5 separate regions of the Homo sapiens genome follow, and regions 2, 3, 4 and 5 are each reported to be linked to region 1. The links are microRNA targets in miRTarBase. Many come from high-throughput screens and were not tested one by one. Region 1 holds a microRNA gene; each other region holds the end of a gene's coding sequence.

Region 1 (4,152 bases):
GTGATTACCAAAGAGAAGAACTTGCATGAGTTTTGAAAGGGTCGGGGTGGGGGTGAACTGTGTGAGATTGGAATATGGGGCTCTTCCAATGGGAAGCACAGACAGGAACTGGAAGGCTTTTGGGTTCCCTCCCTTTGTCCAGAGCCTCCATAAGGGAAAGACTGGCTCCCACGTGGTCCCCAGGCAGTGTGGTCGCAGTGAGGCAGCAGTGTCGAGCACAAATGCAGCAGCCTGTGGGGCACGGCAGGTGCAGGCTCTGGCTCAAGCCATGGTGGTGACGGGCTGGCAGCTTCAGGCTCCCAGAGTCCTGAGACAGCATCAGGGCCCTGGGCTCCTGCATTCCTGCAAGGTGGTGGTCTTGGTTCTAAGGCTGCCATGAATACTCTCAGAGCCTCAGTGGTGGGGGATTACGGGCTCTTGGTGAAACCATTTTCTCTTTCACTCCTTCAGCACAGAAGTGGTAGGAGCTTTCTGCAGTTCTTAATCTCTTGGCCATCTTACCTTCCCTTTCTACCTTCTTCTGGATCTCCTGCCCCTTTCTAAATGATTCATTTTCAATAGATTCCTTCTGTTGGAATGCATAGGGTGGTAATGCCTTCTTACCAGACCCTGCCAGAAGTAGTGAGCTAAGTCTTTTATTCTTATCATCTGCAATCAACAAGAGCCTCTCATGCATCATTACATTCATCATTTCATCACCAAACACATCATTGCATAATCAGACACGTCATTACATCATCACACACATCATTACCTCATATGTGCACCTCCCACTCTCCACCTAGACACAGGGAAGAGAGGAAGGCACCAGGAAATCAGAGTGGTAAAGAAAACTTCAGGAAATCAGGTGGTTTTAAGACCCTTTATTATGACTTAAATAAATTCTGAAATTAGTTTCTTTAAGGAAGGCCCCTAAACCGGGAATGAACATGAATAAGAATTATAGTCATTTTAGCGACCATAGTTTCCCCAGGAATTATTGCACTAAGGCATTTAAATTTTTTTCCAAATGCTAAAATATTTTGTCAGCTTTATTGACCATTCTTTCTAACCCCTCAGTAAATTATATCTCTATCTGAAGTGGAACATAGGAGATGCCCTAAGCTTCTCAAAGATGTTTTGTAACGATCTAGGTAAGGACTGTGTCTAATGGAAATGACAGGCATAATTTATTTGTGAAAGCAGAAATGAAATTCAACCTTGACAACAGATTGCGCATTTTTCCATAATGCCATGGAAGTGAAATTCTTGTGATGTAGATTAAATCGTGGAATTTGACTTATTGTTCAAAAACATTAGTTCAACTCTAAACAGTTGAATTACTCAGCAGCTGTGTACAAATGTATGATACAGATAACAAAATGTATTAACAATTCCCTAGATCTACAGAAATCTATCACTGCTTTTTAGGATAAGCTTGACTTTTGTTCAAATAAAAATGCAAAAGGAAAGTGTATCCTAAAAGGCAATGACAGTTTAATGTGTTTCTGACATGCAACCTTCAAGAGATCCATATATGAACCATTTTGTGTGGATAGTACAACTCTAAACATAATGTTATGTGGAAATTTGTATACAGAATATTTAGCAAAGAAGAGTCAGGATGAATAAAGTGAAAGGAAAGACTTTCCCAATGTTATTTTTTAAGTGATATGAGATGCATCAAGTGAGATGTGTTTGACAAAACTTTATTCAACGTTGATCCTGACAGAAAAGAAGCAGGAAAAAACAATTAATACACTTCCTATGTCTTGAAAAGTAGCAATTTTAATTTTATTGTGCATTTTGCTTGACGATTTTATATATGACTTCCAGTCAATATTTCATCTGGAGGACTGAGCAGGTATTATGATTCCCATTTTATGGCAGATTGCAAGGTGAATGTCACCTGTCATCAGCGCATACCTGGCCAGGGGCCACGTCTTCCAGATTCCAGCCCACACGGCATGGGTGCCTGCATTTCCCTGTTGCTCTTCTCCTCACACTGATATTAATGAAGCACATCTACTTTTAGTCAATAACCACTTTTATGTTACAGACACATAACAACTGGGAAATAAACATCTATATAATTAATCTCAACTAAGCCAGTTAACCCTTACTTTTTACCTAGGCTGTATGCTGAAATGTGTGCCTTTTCTATAAAGGGGTTTGTATTCCTCTCATTATATTGTATCAGGAGGAATCACTCTAAGATAAAACAGTTTATCTCCAAAAGTCTGCAGAAAATGTTGATAACAACCTGCAACTCTCTGGTAAAGGACTGTGAAATGCAAAACAAACCAAACCAAGCCCCAAGACCTACTCATGTAAGATGATGCTATGATACATTGCATTCATCTTTAGCTTTTTAGCCGTCTAAATTGTGTTCTATGAGAGTCTTAAATATCTTCCCTTTATCTCCTTAAGAAAGTCCTAAATTCTTAGCCAATTTTTTTTCCTTTTTTTTTTTTTTAAGAAAGGATCTCGCTCTGTTGCCCATTCTGGAGTGCAGTGGCACAATCTCGGCTCACTGCAACCTCCGCCTCCCGGGTTCAAGTGATCTTCTGCCTCAGCCTCTCGAGTAGCTGGGACCACAGGACTATAGGTGTGTGCCACCATGCCCAACTAATTTTTGTATTTTTAGTAGAGACAGGATTTCACCATGTTGGCCAGGCTGGTCTCAAACTCCTGATCTCAAGTGATCTTTCTGCCTCGGCCTCCCAAAGTGCTGGGATTACAGGTGTTAGCCACTGTGCCCGGCCCTTAGCTGGTCTTTGAGGACACAATACTGTCCTGTGCATTCTTTCCCAGACATGGCCTTACATCAACTGGAATCCCCAACCAGTCACTGTCTTGCATTGTTTTTTAAATACATTATAGTTTCCACTTTCTGGTACTGGTTCTTTTCCTTCTAGTTGCAAGTACCTGATACCTCTGTCTATAGCAACCTTTCTTCATGGCCCTGCTCAAATGCTCCATCCTCCACAAAGCATTCATTCATTGATTGCACCAGCCAGAAGTGAAGTCTGCATCCTAAGATTACATACAACTCTTTCTTCAAGCCCTTTATTCCAATCATATCCATACGGCTCTGGATTGTTTTCATGAATGTCCTTATCTAATCTCTCCTGAGAGACCCTAAATTCCCTTGGGAGAGGGACTTTATTTTAGAGCTAAGGCTGCCTTCAATCTTCTTTATTTAGTTATAGCTGCTATAAACCTTCTTTGACGTTAGAAAAAGCATACCAATATCTACCAATATTTAGTATTTATTAAGTTCCTGTTATATGTCAGGAATTCTGCAAAGGATTTTACATACGCTATTTCCATTTGCCTTAAGAGTTCTGCAAGATAGTATAAACCAAAAGGTATCTGAGACAGGTCTCAATCAATTTAGAAGTTTATTTTGCCACTGAGAAGGAAATAATCGTGAAGGAGGTTTGTGCCTTTCTCCAAAGATAATGTTGAGGACTTCAGCATTTGAAGAGGAATAGCTGTCTGGAGGGGAAAAAGGGAGGGTATGGTCACATTACTGAATCCACATGCTGCAAGTGAAAGGAAGCAGGTTGGGGAATAGTCAATAATATATTTATCTCTTGCTCCATAAATCAGCACTTTACATAAGATAAGGTGAACACAGAGTAGCTACCTATGGAGACATTTAACCTTTTATCTTAGCTGTCTGTAGAGGAACAAGAGGAAAGGCAGTTTCTTGCACGACTCAATTTTCAGCTTAGTTTGTTTTCTTCTGGCATAGTGAGTTGGGGCCCCAAGTTTTTATTTTCCTTTCAGAATAGATATTACTATTCATATAAAAGGCCCCATAACTTATAAAAGACTGTCAGCGCTGGTGTAAGTCAAATCTGACCTAACTCTAGCCTACCATACTGATATTACACTGTTGTGCAATCATGGTCTGCTATGATTTGAGTGTTTGTCCCTTCCAAAATTCATGTTGAAACTTAATCCCTGATGTTGAGAGGTGGGGCCTTTAAGCGGAGCCTGGGTCATAAAGACTCTGCTGTCAAGAATGGATTATCCACTTATTAATTAATGGATTAATCAGTTTATGAATTAATGTATTGATGGGTTGTAACAAGAGTGGGACTGATGGCTTTATATGAAGAGCAAGAGAGACCTGAGCTAACACACTCAGCTTCCTCACCATGC
Region 2 (4,000 bases), not on the chromosome of region 1:
CAATAATACCCAAGCTGAGAGTCAAATCAAGAATGCAATCCCATTCACAATAGCCACAAAAGACTTAAGTAGCTAGGAATACAGCTAACCAGGAAGGTGAAAGATCTCTATAATGAGAATTACAAAACACTGCTGACAGAAATCAGAGACGACATAAACAAATGGAAAAAGATTCCATGCTCACAGATAGGAAGAATCAATATTGTTAAAATGGCCATACTGCCCAAAGCAGTTTACAGATTCAATGCTATTCCTATTAAACTACCAATGGCATTTTCACAGAATTAGAAAAAACTATTTCAAAATTCATATGGAACCAAAAAAAGCCTGAATAGCCAAGGCAATCCTAAGCAGAAAGAACAAAGCTGAAGGCATCACATTATCCAACTTCAAACTATACTACAAGACTACAGTAATCAAAACAGCATGGTACTGGTACAAAAACAGACAGACCAATGGAACCAAATACAGAACCCAGAAATAAAGCCATACAAACTACAGCCATCTGATCTTCAATAAAGTTGACAAAAATAAGTAATGGGGAAAGGACTATTCAATAAATGGTGCTGGGATAACTGGTTAGCCAAATGCAGATTAGAACTAGACACCTTCACCATATATAAAAATAACTTAAGATGGATTAAAGACTTCTATTAGTCTGTTCTTGCACTGCTATAAAGAAATAGCTGAGACTGAATAATTTATAAAGAACAGAGGTTTAACTGGCTCACTCCACAGGCTGTACAGGAAGCATGGCAGCATCAGCTTCTGGGGAGGCATCAGGGAGCTTTCAGTCGTGGCAGAAGGCAAAGGGGGAGCCAAGCATCTTACATTGCAGGAGCGGGAGCAAGAGAGAGAAGGGGGAGGTGCTACACACACAGATCTCGCAATAACTCACTATCACGAGAACAGCAGCAAGAAGGATGATGTTAAACCACGAGAAACCACCCCCATGATCCAATCACCTCCCACCAGGCACCACCTCCAATGCTGGGGATTACAATTCAACATAAGATTCGGATGGGGACACAAATCCAAACCCATATCAAGACTTACATGTAAAACCTAACTGAAAAAACAAAACAAACAAAACCCCTAGAAGGACACCTAAGAAATACCATTCTGGATGTAGGCCCTGGCAAAGATTTCATGAGGAAGACACCAAAAGCAACTGCAACAAAAACAAAAATTGACAAATGGGACCTAATTAAACTAAAGAGCTTCTCTGCTCTGCTAAAGAAACTATCAACAGAGCAACCAGACAACCTACAGAATGGAAGAAAATATTTGCAAACTATGGATATGACAAAGGTCTAATATTCAGAATCTATAAGGAACTTAAGCAAAAAACAAAACAACAACAACAACAACAACATTAAAAGTGGGCAAAGGAGGCTGGGTGTAGTGGCTCACAGCTGTAATCTCAGCACTTTGGGAGGCTGAGGAAGGTGGAACACTTGAGGTCAGGAGTTCGAGACCAGCCTAGCTAACATGGTGAAACCCCATCTCTACTAAAAATACGAAAATTAGCCGGGTGTGGTGGCACACACCTGTAGTCCCAGCTACACAGGAGGCTGAGTCATGAGAATCGCTTGAACCCAGGAGGTGGAGGTTGCAGAGAGCCAAGATCGTGCCACTGCACTCCAGCCTAGGTGACAGAGCGAGGACCCTGTCTCAAAAAAAAAAAAAAAAAATTGGTAAAGGACATGAACAGACACTTCTCAAAAGACATACACATGGCCAATAAGTAAATGAAAAAATGCTCAACATCACTAACCATTAGAGAAATGCTAATAATCAGAGAAATCCATCTCACCCCAGTCAGAACAGCTATGATTAAAAAGTAAAAAGAAACATATGCTGGCAAGGTTGCAGAGAAAAGGGAACACTTACACACTGTTGGTGGGAATGCAAATTAGTTCCATCTCTGTGTAAAGCAGCATAAGGGATTTCTCAAACTTAAAACATTCTACCATTCAACCCAGCAATCCTATTATCAGGTATATACCTAAAGGAATATAAATTATTCTCCCAAAAAGACACATGTACACATATGTTCATCACAGCACTATTCACAATAGCAAAAGCATGGAATCAACCTAAATACCCATCAACAGTGGACTGGATAATGAAAATGTGGTACATATATATTATGGAATACTACAGTCATAAAAAAGAACAAGATCATGTCCTCTGCAGGAGCATGGATGGAGCTGGAGGCCATTATCCTAGGCAAATTAATGCAAGAACAGAAATCCAAATACTCTCACTTATAAGTGGGAGCTAAACATTAAGTACACATGGACACAAAGAAGGGAGTAATAGATACCAGGGCCTACCTGAGAGTAGAGGGTGAGGATCAAAAAACTAGCTATCAGGTACTATGCTCACAACCTGGATGACAAAACACTGACAAAACCCCTGCAACACAATTTACCCATGTTACAAACCTGCACATGTACCCTCTGAACCTAAGAAGTTGGAAAGAAAAAAAATAAGACATAAAAAAAAGATTGCTACAGCAATCACTTTTCAAACCACCGGTATTAATTTCTGTCCTGTGATTCAAGAAATATCTTCACCACAAATTTAGAGTTAATGGATTAAGAAAATGATTTCTAATTAACTGTGCATCATTGTGCAGTTGTCCCTTGGTATCTATGGGGGACTGGTTGCAGGTTCTCCCTCCAGATACCCAAATCCACAGTTGCTCAAGTCCCTTATAATAAAATGGTATAGTATTTGCATATGACCCATGCATATCCTCCCATATTTTTAAAATGATCTCTAGATTACTTATAATATCTAATATAATGTGAATGCTACATAAATTGTTATAGTGTATTTTTTAGAGAACAACGACAAGAATAAAAAGTCTGTACATGTTCAGTACAGATCCAACTATCCATTTTTCCCCCCAAATATTTTCAATCCACAGTCGATTAACTCCATGGATATAGAACCCATGGATACAGAACCCATGGATACGAAGGGCCAACTGTATTCTCAAAGTTAAAAAAAAAATAAACACTGGCACTCTGAATACACTGTAATGGAAAATGTCAGGGTTTATCTTAAAAAAAAGTAACGGATTAAAAACAATGACAACCCTAAGTATTTAAAGAGATTTATTAAATCATCTTATCACAAAGATGGAAACATATACAAACTAGAAACATGCAACCATCATCTTCCACAGTCAAGTCACAATGTCAAATATTTTTCTTGCCTCTGCAGATGAAAAGTTCAGATCTTATACCCAACTACTTACTCACCCCGAATATTTAAGTCAGTCTTCCTGAAAGTACTCAGGGTAGCAAGTAACAAAATGCAAACGATTATATAAAGAAAGTGCAGTTAAAAAGGAAACTATGTGGCAAGTACCCTCTTTCCCTTCCCACCCCCCAATTAAAGGCAAACAATGGCACTTTGCTCTTGCTTAACCTAGATTGTCTTCAAAAACTATTAAAATGTAAAAGACTTAACAAAAAAACAAAAAGACGTTTAACAGATGTCAAAAAGCTCCTTAGTGTTTGAAAATAAATGCTTAAACAAAAGACAACATATTTTATATCAAACAAGTTTGAAGAGCCCTGAATTGCAGCATTCTGTAACATAAACAAACAAAAAGCTGGTATAGGATTTATTGTCAAAGGCAGAATTTCTTCAGGCAGGTAAGTAAGGAGGTGGTGGTTCTTTTTCAGGCATTTTCACGGCCATTTCATAGGTTGGCAAAACGTACTAAAGAGAGAAAAAAAATTGTATCAGATTTAATTCTCCTTTAAAATCCTTTGTGAGATAATTCAGCTTTCAGACTTTATGCCCTAAATAGGGTTATACAAAACCATAAAGAAGAGCTGAAGAAACTGTTAGCTAAAATGTTCCCAAGTAGATGCCTCAATAACCTGGAATTTTACCAAGATTGCTAGCGAAGGGGAGGGTGGAGAGAGGGAGGTGGGGAGAGAGAGTCCTGCTTCTGGACAAGGATTCCTAGACAGGC
Region 3 (4,000 bases), not on the chromosome of region 1:
GGGACCTTGAGTTGGGGATAATAATACATAAACAAACTTGTCTGTCCTGTCTTTCTAGCTAGGTATATGAGGCAAGAGTCCCATCATAAAAAGTGAGTCATTTGGGCAGTTAGGTGGAAAACACACTCCTTTGCAAGTGCTTGCTGTCTGCCCACCAAGTGTGGTTTCTTCTCATCTTTTGACTTAATTACAGTGAGGGCCCCAAGGCTGTTGCAGCTCCTCGACCTGATCGGTTGGTCAATCGCTTGAAGAATATCACTCTGGATGATGCCAGTGCTCCTCGCCTAATGGTTCTTCGTCAGCCAAGGGGACCAGATAACTCAATGGTATGAGGGCATACAAGGCTTGGGGGAGGCCAACTGATAGACCAACATAAAATATGTGGTCCTATTTAAACAATAGGTCAGGAAACTTAATGAAGCAGGGAGACTTCCATATTGCTTATAACTAGTTAGGACTTTCTACACATTGGTTCAGCCCCCTAACCTAATGGTTGCTTACAGTAAGAAGCACATTTCTTTTCTTGATGCTTTGAAGACAGTTTAGGTAATGAATGGGTCAGGAGTGCTTACTGTGGATTTTCTCCTCTAGGAAAGAATTAGTACTGCATAAGATGATTAAAAATAATGCTTTTGTAGTTTCATTTCGGAATAGTGAATGTACTATGATTGTTGTGCGCTCAAATCATTAACTGCAGGGTTTTTTTTTTCTCCCCCCCACAGGGGTTTGGTGCAGAAAGAAAGATCCGTCAAGCTGGTGTCATTGACTAACCACATCCACAAAGCACACCATTAATCCACTATGATCAAGTTGGGGGGAATCTGGTGAAGGGTTCTGAATATCTCCCTCTTCATCCCTCCCGAAATCTGGAATACTTATTCTATTGAGCTATTACACCAGTTTTAACACCTTCCTCGTGTTATGTTTAAAAAAATAAATAAATTTAAGAAAACCATTTTAAATAATGCACAGTTGCAGCCTGGAAAAACTTAAGGTGGCGCCTTATAGTATCAATTTTAGGAGCTTTATTTGGTGCATTTAACGCAACTGGTAATTGCAGAATCCACTTTGCCTGTGTAAGTGAAAAATATAGACTGTTATCTTGTTGGCCCTATGAAATTCTGCACTTTTCATTATATACTCTACCTTCATTAATTACTTCTGGCAAGATGTTCTGCCTTAGCACTCAGTTGCATTCTTTTCCTTTTTCTTCCTGTTCATTATGCTTTAATTCTGAGGACCATATGAGGGTAGAATATATTATCTTTTAAAAATTACAAAAATTTGTATAGGCAAACCATTTCTTAAAGTTGATGGCCAAATTTTAAAATGTTATTTTTCATATCATTTATAATCTTGTCACAATCCACTTAAAGAAGTTTGGTTATATTTCAGTGAAAATTTTCTTCCAGAGTAGGTTTTTTTTCGTGGGTTGGGGGGTAACTTTACTACAATTAGTAAGTATGGTGCAGAATTTCATGCAAATGAGGAGTGCCAGCAGTGTGATAATTTAAACATATTTAAACAAAAACAAAAAAAATGAATGCACAAACTTGCTGCTGCTTAGATCACTGCAGCTTCTAGGACCCGGTTTCTTTTACTGATTTAAAAACAAAACAAAAAAAAATAAAAAAGTTGTGCCTGAAATGAATCTTGTTTTTTTTTATAAGTAGCCGCCTGGTTACTGTGTCCTGTAAAATACAGACACTTGACCCTTGGTGTAGCTTCTGTTCAACTTTATATCACGGGAATGGATGGGTCTGATTTCTTGGCCCTCTTCTTGAATTGGCCATATACAGGGTCCCTGGCCAGTGGACTGAAGGCTTTGTCTAAGATGACAAGGGTCAGCTCAGGGGATGTGGGGGAGGGCGGTTTTATCTTCCCCCTTGTCGTTTGAGGTTTTGATCTCTGGGTAAAGAGGCCGTTTATCTTTGTAAACACGAAACATTTTTGCTTTCTCCAGTTTTCTGTTAATGGCGAAAGAATGGAAGCGAATAAAGTTTTACTGATTTTTGAGACACTAGCACCTAGCGCTTTCATTATTGAAACGTCCCGTGTGGGAGGGGCGGGTCTGGGTGCGGCCTGCCGCATGACTCGTGGTTCGGAGGCCCACGTGGCCGGGGCGGGGACTCAGGCGCCTGGGGCGCCGACTGATTACGTAGCGGGCGGGGCCGGAAGTGCCGCTCCTTGGTGGGGGCTGTTCATGGCGGTTCCGGGGTCTCCAACATTTTTCCCGGCTGTGGTCCTAAATCTGTCCAAAGCAGAGGCAGTGGAGCTTGAGGTAAGTTTATCTCATGCATAGTGTTCGGCTTTGGGCTGTGGAATGTTCAGGCGTTTCACTGATGCCAGAAATGGAGCAGAATCTATCAGCTGGAGACAAAGGCCTTGGGCGGGGGTCCTTCCATTTGGTGCCTACGTGGGGAGATCTTTGGAGACAGAAGGGAGAATGGGAAGGAGTTGCGGCCTGGAGGCTTCCTGCTAGAGCTGAGAAGCCTTCGGGGAGTAATAGGAAGGGGGATTTCCATTGCTTAGGCTGAGGGCGGGGCCCAAGGACTGTTGAAAAATAGCTAAGGATGGGGGTTGCTAGAAAACTACTCCAGAAGTGTGAGGCCGATATTAATCCGGTGTTTTTGCGTTCTCTAGTCACTTTAAGAACCAAATGGAAGGTCACACTAGGGTTTTCATTTCCATTGATTATAGAAAGCTTTAAAGTACTGTAGATGTGGCTCGCCAATTAACCCTGATTACTGGTTTCCAACAGGTTCTTGCTGGTGTGAAATGACTGAGTACAAACTGGTGGTGGTTGGAGCAGGTGGTGTTGGGAAAAGCGCACTGACAATCCAGCTAATCCAGAACCACTTTGTAGATGAATATGATCCCACCATAGAGGTGAGGCCCAGTGGTAGCCCGCTGACCTGATCCTGTCTCTCACTTGTCGGATCATCTTTACCCATATTCTGTATTAAAGGAATAAGAGGAGAGAAAGTAAAAAGTTATTTTGGGTATACATTCAGTTATGCAATAAGCTTAACGTGTTTATAGAGAACAGTTCATTTTTATTAGCTGCTGAAGTTTCTAAAACCTGTCCAGTTTTTAACAGTTCTGTAAACTATTGCAAACTCAGTGTTGAGTTCATTCATGAGTTTCTTCATATATAACAGCTCTATTACATGAGAAACACAGGCCATAGTAGCGAGACTGTCTGATTGTATGGGAGATAATAGGATGGAGATAAAGGATTCAGAGATGAGTGTTCTTCAATATTTATTTATTAGCTAGTTGAAGCAGCTGAGACCAGATGATTGGAGTAGCAAGAACTTGAGATTTTTAGTCTTTATGCCTAGGATTTTGGTCCCTGTTTGCAGTTTATTTAGTTGTGTGATATTGAGCAACTGAATCTCTCCCAACCTCATTTTCCTCATGTTTTAAATTACCATAAACTTGTCCTGCCTACCACACAGGGATGTTATGGAAAGTTAAATAATATATTTAAGTTATTTATGAATGGTAAAGCACTATGTAATAGTACTTAGGGATTCTATTGTTATTATGAGAGTTCATGGTACAGATTGTCTTCAGTAAGTGGCACCTAAGGCTCTTTAAATAAAGGGTTTTGCCGGACACGGTGGCTCACGCCTGTAATCCCAGCACTTTGGGAGGCTGAGGCAGGCGGATCACAAGGTCAGGAGTTCAAGACCAGCCTGATCAACATGGTGAAACCCCGTCTCTACTAAAAATACAAAAATTAGCTGGGTGTGGTGGCAGGCACCTGTAATCCCAGCTACTCAGGAGGCTGAGGCAGGAGAATCGCTTGAACCAGAGGCAGAGGGTGCAGTGAGCCGAGATCACACCACAGACCTCCAGCCTGGGCAACAGAGCGAGACTTCGTCTCAAAAAATAAATAAATAGATAAATAAATAAAGGGTTTTGTAATTTTGTTCAGTTTAGAAATGCCTAACTTTAGAGATTATTTTAATCAACACCTGGCCTCCCTACCATC
Region 4 (4,000 bases), not on the chromosome of region 1:
ATATGCCAAGCTCTTTTCTTTTTAAATCAGGCATTTATAAACAAGAAAGCATACATTAATTACATAAAAATAGTTTCCGAGTAGCAGAGTAAGCATCATACTGTCGTTAGCAGCAGCGTGGGGCACGGGCAGGGGCGGGGGTCTGGGTGATGTTAAAGGTAGAGATGGAGCTTTTTCCTTAATTGAAAAAAAAAAGTCATTTGTGACTCCTGACTTAAAGCGAGAACGAACATCTCCCTGGACCCTGGTGGGCTGAGGGAGGGGTGGGGGGGCCGGGGTTCGGACCCACAGGGAGGAGGGGGTGGGGGGGGGGCCGGGGTTCGGACCCACAGGGAGGAGGGGGTGGGGGGGGCCGGGGATCGGACCCACAGGGAGGAGGGGGTGGGGGGGCCGGGGTTCGGACCCACAGGGAGGAGGGGGTGGGGGGGCCGGGGTTCGGACCCACAGGGAGGAGGAGGTGGGGGGGGCCGGGGCTCAGACCCACAGGGAGGAGGGGGTCACATGGGAAACGCACATGGGTTTCTCCGTCTCCCCTGCCCCCCGGCAGGAAAGCATTTTTTTTTTCCTCAGTTAAAAACAGCCCAGAAAACAAGACAACTCTCAGGTAAGAAAAGAGTTTCTGAAAAAGGACCCAGCATATACATGTATAATACAACGGTGAAAAAGGAAAAAGTATTTACAGGTGAACTGTTTTTACATTGGCTAGTTCTGTACGAAAAGCAGACATTACGTGTATGAGTTAGCTGCTCCAGAGATATGAATGTTATTGCTGTTGTTTTTCCCTTCGTTAAAAATCTTCTTTCAGTATAGAAATATAATGAGAATTAAACTGAATACACAATCACTTAGATGAAGGGCCTCACACACAGAGGAGTCAGCAGCCCACACAGCGGACACCTCTTCCCCCTTCTGCTGAAAAGAAACGGACTCGCACCTGTGCCAAGGGGAGCCAGGCGTGCACCCCTCGGGGCCTGGGACCCCTCAGTCCAGAGCAGCCCTGCAGCCACAGCTGCCCCCTCAGGCCCCTGACAGTGGAAGTGACCCTGGTGAGCCGAGGCAAGAGCTGTGGGAACTGCCTGGGAGGGTCCCGAGCTCGCCTGCCCACGTCCGGGTCCCACTGACCGCACGGGCCTGGCAGCTGCAGGAAAGGGTGGGCCCAGGTGACACTGGCTGGACCCTCCCAGAGCCGAAGTGGGGAAGGGCTGCCACTGCAGATACAGCGCTTTCCGTTTGGGGCAAGATGGGGCGGTGGAGGCGTGGACCCAACGGTGACCGTCGGGATGGAGCAAGGGCAAGGAGAGGCTCTGGCCCAGACACAGCTTGGAAAAGCTCATCTCCCTCTGGGGTCTAAAAACTCAAAGCAAACGGAGCAAGCCTGGCGGCCCTGGGGATGGGGCAGGGCCTCTACCTCACTGTGATCTTCGACCTGGCGACACAGGACAGCCACACAGAAGCACGCCAACACACTTAAAGCTTTGCTCCAACTAAATCATTTAGTTTCCCTTGAAGAAATAACTGAAAAAAAAAACAACTCTGGTAAAACAAGGCTAAAAACAGCATTCTGCATGTTGCATAACAAAACCGACCCTTTACAAGACACGGTAATAATGCCCGCTGACGGATCTACCTACGGCAGAGGTGTGGAATCCATGCACACAGAACAACCGCAAAGAAAACAAAAGCAAAGAAAATTCCAAACAAACGCTGCATATACATGATGTCCCTTTTGCATTGCACTTTAGAAGGGGTGGGGGGCTTCAGCAGCAACCAAGACCCCCCTCAGTAAACCAAGGGCAAAACCCCGCAGGCAATTCCGCCACCCAGATGCGAGGGCTCAGCAGTCTCTGGTCTTTGCTCGTCACTGCCCCGAGGTCGTCTGTACCTGGGCAAGTAACCTCCACCTTCTGTGAGCGCGTGCAGCTGCCGCGGGTGTTAGAACGGATTCAAGCAAAGAACTCCTGTAAGATCTTCTTATGTAAATAAATACCGTAACTGTAGGATAGGTAGCCGCCTCTTGTCTACTGGGAAATCATTTTTCAAGCTTGGGCATAAGAAACCTTATACAATTTGCATAAACAGGTGAGAGTAAACGAGATTATTTGGAATAAATGCAAGGAACTTATTCTGAGAGTGGCAGATTCAGTCGCTACTGAAGACAGATATCTTGGGGGTAAAAAGACACGAGTCAGGATTTGCTGTACAAGATGCTGGAAGGCACAGAACGACCCCCGAAGTTCAGTTTTTGCATTTTCGTTTTCTTGTGATTCCCTTGTTCAACCAAGCACCAGAGGGGGTTTCTAAGCACTCGAGCACTTCGGATTTGACTGCTCTATAAATCGGTAAAAACCTCAGTTCACTGGGGAATAGAAAGAGAAGGGAAGGTTGTGGACAAAGTGCAGTTCTAAATATACGTTTAAATGAACGAACAAAAAAAAAGAAAGAAAAATTGAAATAATGCTCTTTTGTTCCAATGCTGCAGCCTCAGTCCCAAAATGAAGGGAGCGACGTTTGCCGAACTGAAAAGGGTCGCCCGGTCAGGCGGCACGTGTGCCCGGAGGGGCTGAGGGCGTGACCGCCAGCCACGGTCACCACCCGACGCAGGTCAGTGCCTCGTGGTGGAGGAGCGTGGGCAGAATCACGGGGTGCAGAGGAGCCGAAGACCGTCCCCTCAGCTCCGGGGCAGCTCCTGTGCGGCTCTGCACTTCCTGGTACCCGTGGGGACAGCGCTGGCATCGACGGCGGCGTGGCGGGCGGGGTAGGCGGCAGTAAGGCGGGCAGTGTTCGAGCTCATCTCGCACGCGGCACTGTCCCTGCTCTCCCTGGCAGCAGCAGGAAGACCTGGGTCCTTGTCGCTGAAAAAATAGACTCTGAAGAAAAACCCCTGCTGTCCTCACGCAGCCGCGGGCAGATGAGCTGTGATGGCTTCCCCGGGTGGGGAGGGTGGGGCGGCCGCCACCCCCACTCCGTTGCGGGTCTTCAGATGGCGTCATGTGTTGGGGCTTTTAGAAGTTAGTCATTTAAAAATGTGTTGATTTTCTGAATTTCAAGTCTCCTTACTGGTTTTAAATAGCTTATAACAAAAGTGTAAATGTTAGAATGTTCCAGCAAGCAGAGGACCAGCAGGCCGCCGAGCTGGCCCCGTCTCCAGCTGTAGTTGGGGGACGCGGCTTACTCACTTGAACTTGGCCAGTAGAAAATTTTGCAGTGGGTTCCAAAACTACATGGTTACAAACACTCGCTTGGTAATAGGCACGGTAAGACGTTGTGCTGTGTGGGCTGCAGGGGCGGAGCCGGGCGGAGCTGCACCGCCCAGCCGCGCCCCCCTGCACCCGCGTTGTCGGCGGCGCTGCGGCGGCAGGCACGGAATCTACGGCTCCAGCTCCGCAGCGCCCTCGCTGCCCGCAGCCTCGGGGCGGGCCCGCGGCCACAGCTGTTCCTGCAGCTCCTTCACCACCTTCTCCAGGTGCTCCCGGGCCTCGCGCTCCCGCAGCAGGTCGGCCCGCAGCTGCTCCCGGTCCGCCTCCGCGTGCTGCAGCTTCACCTGCAGGTCTTCGATCTGAAAGGGAGCCGAGTGGTCAGCGGCGCCTGCTCGCTGCCCTGCCCCGGCCCGACGCTGCTTCCCCCACCCGAGGCTCCTGCGCCGCTCCCTGTCCCTCCCCAGTGCCGCGTGCCGGCCCCTCCTCCACCTGCTAGGACACAGGCTCACGAGACGCAGGGCCCAGCAACCACCCACCCTGTGCCCGTCGGGGGGGCACGCACGGAACGTGGTCCCGGGCCTGGCTTCTGCTCCAAGGCCTTTCCGGCTGGGCAGGACTGGCCACCGGGGCCCACGGCGGCTCCACGCCCACCGTGCTGCGTGCCTCAGTCTCCCCACCCGCATACCTGGGCCGAGTACTTGGCGCGCAGGCGGCCCGCCTCGCAGCCCTTGTCGCACACCCGGGCCTGCCGCGCCTGCTCCAGCTCCCGCTTCAGGCGCAGCCGTGACTCGTTGGCCTCTTTC
Region 5 (4,000 bases), not on the chromosome of region 1:
TGACCTCAAGTGATCTACCCGCCTTGGCCTCCCAAAGTGCTGGGATTACAGGAGTGAGCCACCGCCCCCGGACCCAGTGTGGGTCTTAACCTATAACACCGTGTGTAATATTGTTTTTTCATAATACTTAGAAAATATTAATTTTTAAAAGATGATTTGGTAACACACTGGTATATGGCCAAATTTGTATAGACTATAAGGAACTATATATTCAACTTCCTGGCCACAATGCTGAAAAACTCTGTGTGTAACTAATTACATGTCTTATTTAGATACTTCTCCCATTCCTGATAGAAGTGATAAAAACTTAGGAATCCCTCTTTACATACTGTCATCAGCTTCCTCTTTCTTTAGTCTGGCTTTCCGTATCATCAGCAGGAATTCATTTGGGTATTTTTAATCTTGAAGGTAAAGAACAAGCACCTTTGGAGATGAGTATGCATCCAGCGGCAAGCGCTCCACTCTCAGTCTTTACTAAGGAATCTACAGCCTCCAAACACAGTGACCACCATCACCACCATCACCATGAGCACAAGAAAAAGAAGAAGAAGCATAAACATAAGCACAAACACAAGCATAAGCATGACAGTAAAGAAAAGGACAAGGAGCCTTTCACTTTCTCCAGCCCTGCCAGTGGCAGGTCTATTCGTTCTCCTTCCCTTTCAGACTGAGAAGGGGACAAAAAGACCTTTCCTTTCATGTCCAGAAGAATGTATGTAACTAAAGCTTTGTCCTCTGTGAAGAATTATAAAAGGGAGGGGGGAAAGGATTCGCCTCTCCTACAGAAATTCTGAATTCATTTAAGTTCTAAGCATTTGATTTATGTTATTTATACAGTTGGGATCTAATTAGGAAAATGTGTTTTGTAGTTCTGGATAAACTATTTCATCCGCTGTTTCCTCCCCAAAACACACACACAGAGCAAACTCCCTTTCATAAAAGCCCTCATATCCACTGGCAGTCCCCGTTCGCATCATGGTCTCCATGTGTACCGCCAAAGTCAATTATGTTTGAAAGCCTTTGGTGGATGTTATGGGGCAAAGTTATGATTTACACAGAAGCAACTGCCAAATCTGTGGTGCAACCACTATCTCCAGTGAAATATTGTATAACACCATTTGGAACTACTGAAAAGACAGTGGCTTTTCTACAGTACTCTTCCTTATTGCACCATTTTTGTATTAACGTAGAAACTAAGCATCAGAATTTATGAACAAAGAATATGTTATTTTTCCTTTTGCTCTAAAATACTGAGATTTGGGGAAGCAATTCTTTTTTAAAAAAATTTTGAATAACTATCTTTTGATAACACATTCGGCGGTTACGATGTTGGAATTTAGCAGAACTATCAAATCCAAAATTATTTTCAAATCAAGATGTTTAAATTATAAGTTTTTTTGTTTTGTTTTCCAGTAAGTATAAATGAAAATATTCATATGTAAAATATGTTTTGCTTAATGTGGACAATTTACACACCCAACACATACTGTTTCCAAAATTATTTCTATATGACACAAAGTATGATACCTTTAAAAAGGTGAGCTTATATATTGTTTATTAACCTGGAAATAGACAATTTGGCTCTCATACCATAAGCATTTAAAAACATATGAAATATTTTGATTTCTTTATATGGTGGTGTGTTTTTATTTCTGAATTTTCCATGTGCTTTAATATTTGTTTAAGAATATTTTTTATATCTGTTCAATTTTTATCATTCCCCTTATCATTAGAAAGTTTGACAAAAATACTTGAATCTTGGACCTCTAAATATACTTTTAGTTGTGTTTAACTTGTTTAATAAATAACTTTTTAAGTTGATCATTCTGTCTTTGTAGCTTTTTATATTTTGTGTTACCTTCTTGTGTGTGTATATATAATAAACCTGTCCACATAGTTTGCAGAGAGCTTTGTGAATAGGTGGGATTTTTAGCTGGCCTCACTAGGAGGAATGATTTCAGTAGGCTGAGATGGGGTAAAGTTCTCTCAGCAGAAGAAACAGTATCTTCAAAGGTATGTAGGAAAGCAAGGGTGTATTCAGGAATTAGAAGGCTGTGCAGTTGGCCTGGAGTATAAGTGCAAAGGGAATATTATCAGATGTTGAAGGGCCTAAATGACAGTTATTTAAAGTTTCAATTAATTGAATGTTGTCCAACTGAAATTATTTTTGGAAAATAGGATATTTTAGAGTGTATAGTGATACCATATATAGAATTCCCAACTTTGAAAATTCAAAGCACACATTTCAAAATAATTACTTGTGTTATAGGAAGACATTGATAAATAATAGCTAGCTATTATAATTCAGGCACCTCTTGTATGCTAGACATTGTACCAGGAACCTTATGTATATTATTTCTTTATCAGATGTTTATATTAGATGTTTCTTCCAGGGAACTTCTTTTTATGGTGAACTCTTGATTATTTATGCTTCTGGTTGGGAGCAGACAACGCAAAAGGTATTTTATTCACATTTTTGAAATAGATAATTAAACACAATGCAGTTTCAGTCTAAGTCTCCCAGTCTCCTTTCCCAGAGGCAGTAATTTTTGACAGTATTATATATATCTTTCCAGCACATGTCTATATATATATTTCCATGTATTTTTACAGTATGTACAGATTTTTTAAAACAAGCAGTAGCATATAATACAGACTTGCAGAAATTGTTTTTTTTTAAATTATGCTTTATCTTTTATGGCTTTTGCATATTATGTCATAGTTACTAAGATCTTCCTCATTCTACAATTATATAATAATTCACTTTTTTGGAATGTTCTTAAAATTTTATGTTTCAGGTTTACGTTCTTCATCCAACTTGAATCCATCTGCAGTTTATTTTAACAAAAAAATAGGGGTTCAACTTTTTTTTTCCTTCTATTTAATTTTTTTTTTTTTTTTTTGGTAGAGACAGGGTCTCACCGTGTTGCCCAGGCTGGTCTTGAACTTCTGGCCACAAGCCGTCCTCCCACCTCAACCTCCCAAAGCATTGGGATTACAGGCATGAACCACCACACCCAGCCTTGTCTGAACATATTTTTTAAGTTCCCTTTTAATTTCTTCATTGACTCATTGGTAGTTCATGCGTTCAAGAGCATGTTGTTTAATTCCCATATACTTATGAATTTTCTGAAGTTCTCGTTTTGACTTCTAGTTTCATAATTGTGGTCAGAAAAATATGATTTCAAGTAGAATTTTCAGAATTTTGAAATGAACTGAAATTTAATTGAATTGACAGAAATCAAGAAGATTTCAGTCTTCTTAAATTTGCTGAAGCTTGTTTTGTGCCCTAACATGTTAGATTCTGGAGAATGGTTCATATGTGCTCCAGAAGAATGTATACTCTGTTGCTGTTGGATTGAATGTTTTGTATATGTCTGTTAGGTACATTTGGTCTAAAGTGTTAAAGTTCAGTGTTTCCTTGTTACATGTCTGAATGATCTGTCCATTGTTGAAAGTGGGGTATTGAAGGCTCCTTCAGTATCTCCTGCAATATTGTATTGCAGTCTATCTCTCCTTCAGATCCTTTAATATTTCTCTTATATATAGTATTAAGATGCTTTGAGGTTGAGTGCATATATGTTTACAATTGTAATACCCTCTGAATGAATTGGTCCTTTTGTCATTGTGTCCTTTGCCTCTTTTTTATAGTTTTTGGCTTAAATTCTATATTGTCTGATATGATTTTTCATGTCACCCTGATATGCATACTATTTGGACTATTTTTATCATCAAAGTATGGTTTTCTTAACAATTATATATTATTCTAGAAATTTTATTACTACTTAAAAATCAGGGCTTAAAAGTATTCTTACTGTGCCGGGCGTAGTGGCTTACGCCTGTAATCCCAGCACTTTGGGAGGCTGAGGCGGGCAGATCACAAGGTCAGGAGTTTGAGACCAGCCTGACCAACATGGTGAAACCCCGTCTCTACTAAAAATACAAAAATTAGCCGAGCATGGTGGCCCGTGCCTGTAATCCCAGCTCCTCAGGAGGCTGA

The links. The annotated mature microRNA hsa-miR-651-3p reads AAAGGAAAGUGUAUCCUAAAAG and lies in region 1 at 1,444-1,465, shown strand. An mRNA with a match to its seed (bases 2 to 7 or 8) in the 3' UTR can be bound and repressed. Matches are read on the target gene's strand: a 7mer-m8 pairs with bases 2 to 8, a 7mer-A1 pairs with bases 2 to 7 and ends in A, and an 8mer does both.
Region 2: miRTarBase lists LAPTM4A as a target of hsa-miR-651-3p. Seed matches in the 3' UTR shown: 7mer-m8 at 3,363-3,369.
Region 3: miRTarBase lists CSDE1 as a target of hsa-miR-651-3p. Seed matches in the 3' UTR shown: 7mer-m8 at 1,200-1,206.
Region 4: miRTarBase lists SKI as a target of hsa-miR-651-3p. Seed matches in the 3' UTR shown: 7mer-m8 at 664-670.
Region 5: miRTarBase lists TAF2 as a target of hsa-miR-651-3p. Seed matches in the 3' UTR shown: 7mer-m8 at 690-696, 7mer-A1 at 1,159-1,165 and 7mer-m8 at 1,231-1,237.

The regions. Positions count from the first base shown.
Region 1 is chrX:8,125,575-8,129,726 of GRCh38, forward strand. It overlaps MIR651 (microRNA 651), which reads left to right and starts at 1,391; the gene lies at 1,391-1,487. All of the region lies in intron 1 of LOC107985675 (a long non-coding RNA gene), which reads left to right.
Region 2 is chr2:20,029,539-20,033,538 of GRCh38, forward strand. It overlaps LAPTM4A (lysosomal protein transmembrane 4 alpha), which reads right to left. Exons shown (of 7, transcript NM_014713.5): 7 at 3,112-3,741. The coding sequence ends at 3,667. Among named protein-coding and RNA genes, the nearest start is that of MATN3, 19 kb to the left of the region's middle.
Region 3 is chr1:114,714,939-114,718,938 of GRCh38, reverse strand. It overlaps CSDE1 (cold shock domain containing E1), which reads left to right. Exons shown (of 20, transcript NM_001007553.3): 19 at 194-326; 20 at 723-2,023. The coding sequence ends at 770. It overlaps NRAS (NRAS proto-oncogene, GTPase), which reads left to right and starts at 2,168. Exons shown (of 7, transcript NM_002524.5): 1 at 2,168-2,281; 2 at 2,762-2,889. The coding sequence starts at 2,779. RefSeq lists enhancers at 2,163-2,362, 2,373-2,472.
Region 4 is chr1:2,306,133-2,310,132 of GRCh38, reverse strand. SKI (SKI proto-oncogene) reads right to left here. Exons shown (of 7, transcript NM_003036.4): 6 at 3,883-4,000; 7 at 1-3,556. The coding sequence ends at 3,368. Among named protein-coding and RNA genes, the nearest start is that of SKI, 80 kb to the right of the region's middle. RefSeq lists an enhancer at 2,846-3,479.
Region 5 is chr8:119,728,595-119,732,594 of GRCh38, reverse strand. TAF2 (TATA-box binding protein associated factor 2) reads left to right here. Exons shown (of 26, transcript NM_003184.4): 26 at 409-1,821. The coding sequence ends at 671. Among named protein-coding and RNA genes, the nearest start is that of ENPP2, 92 kb to the right of the region's middle.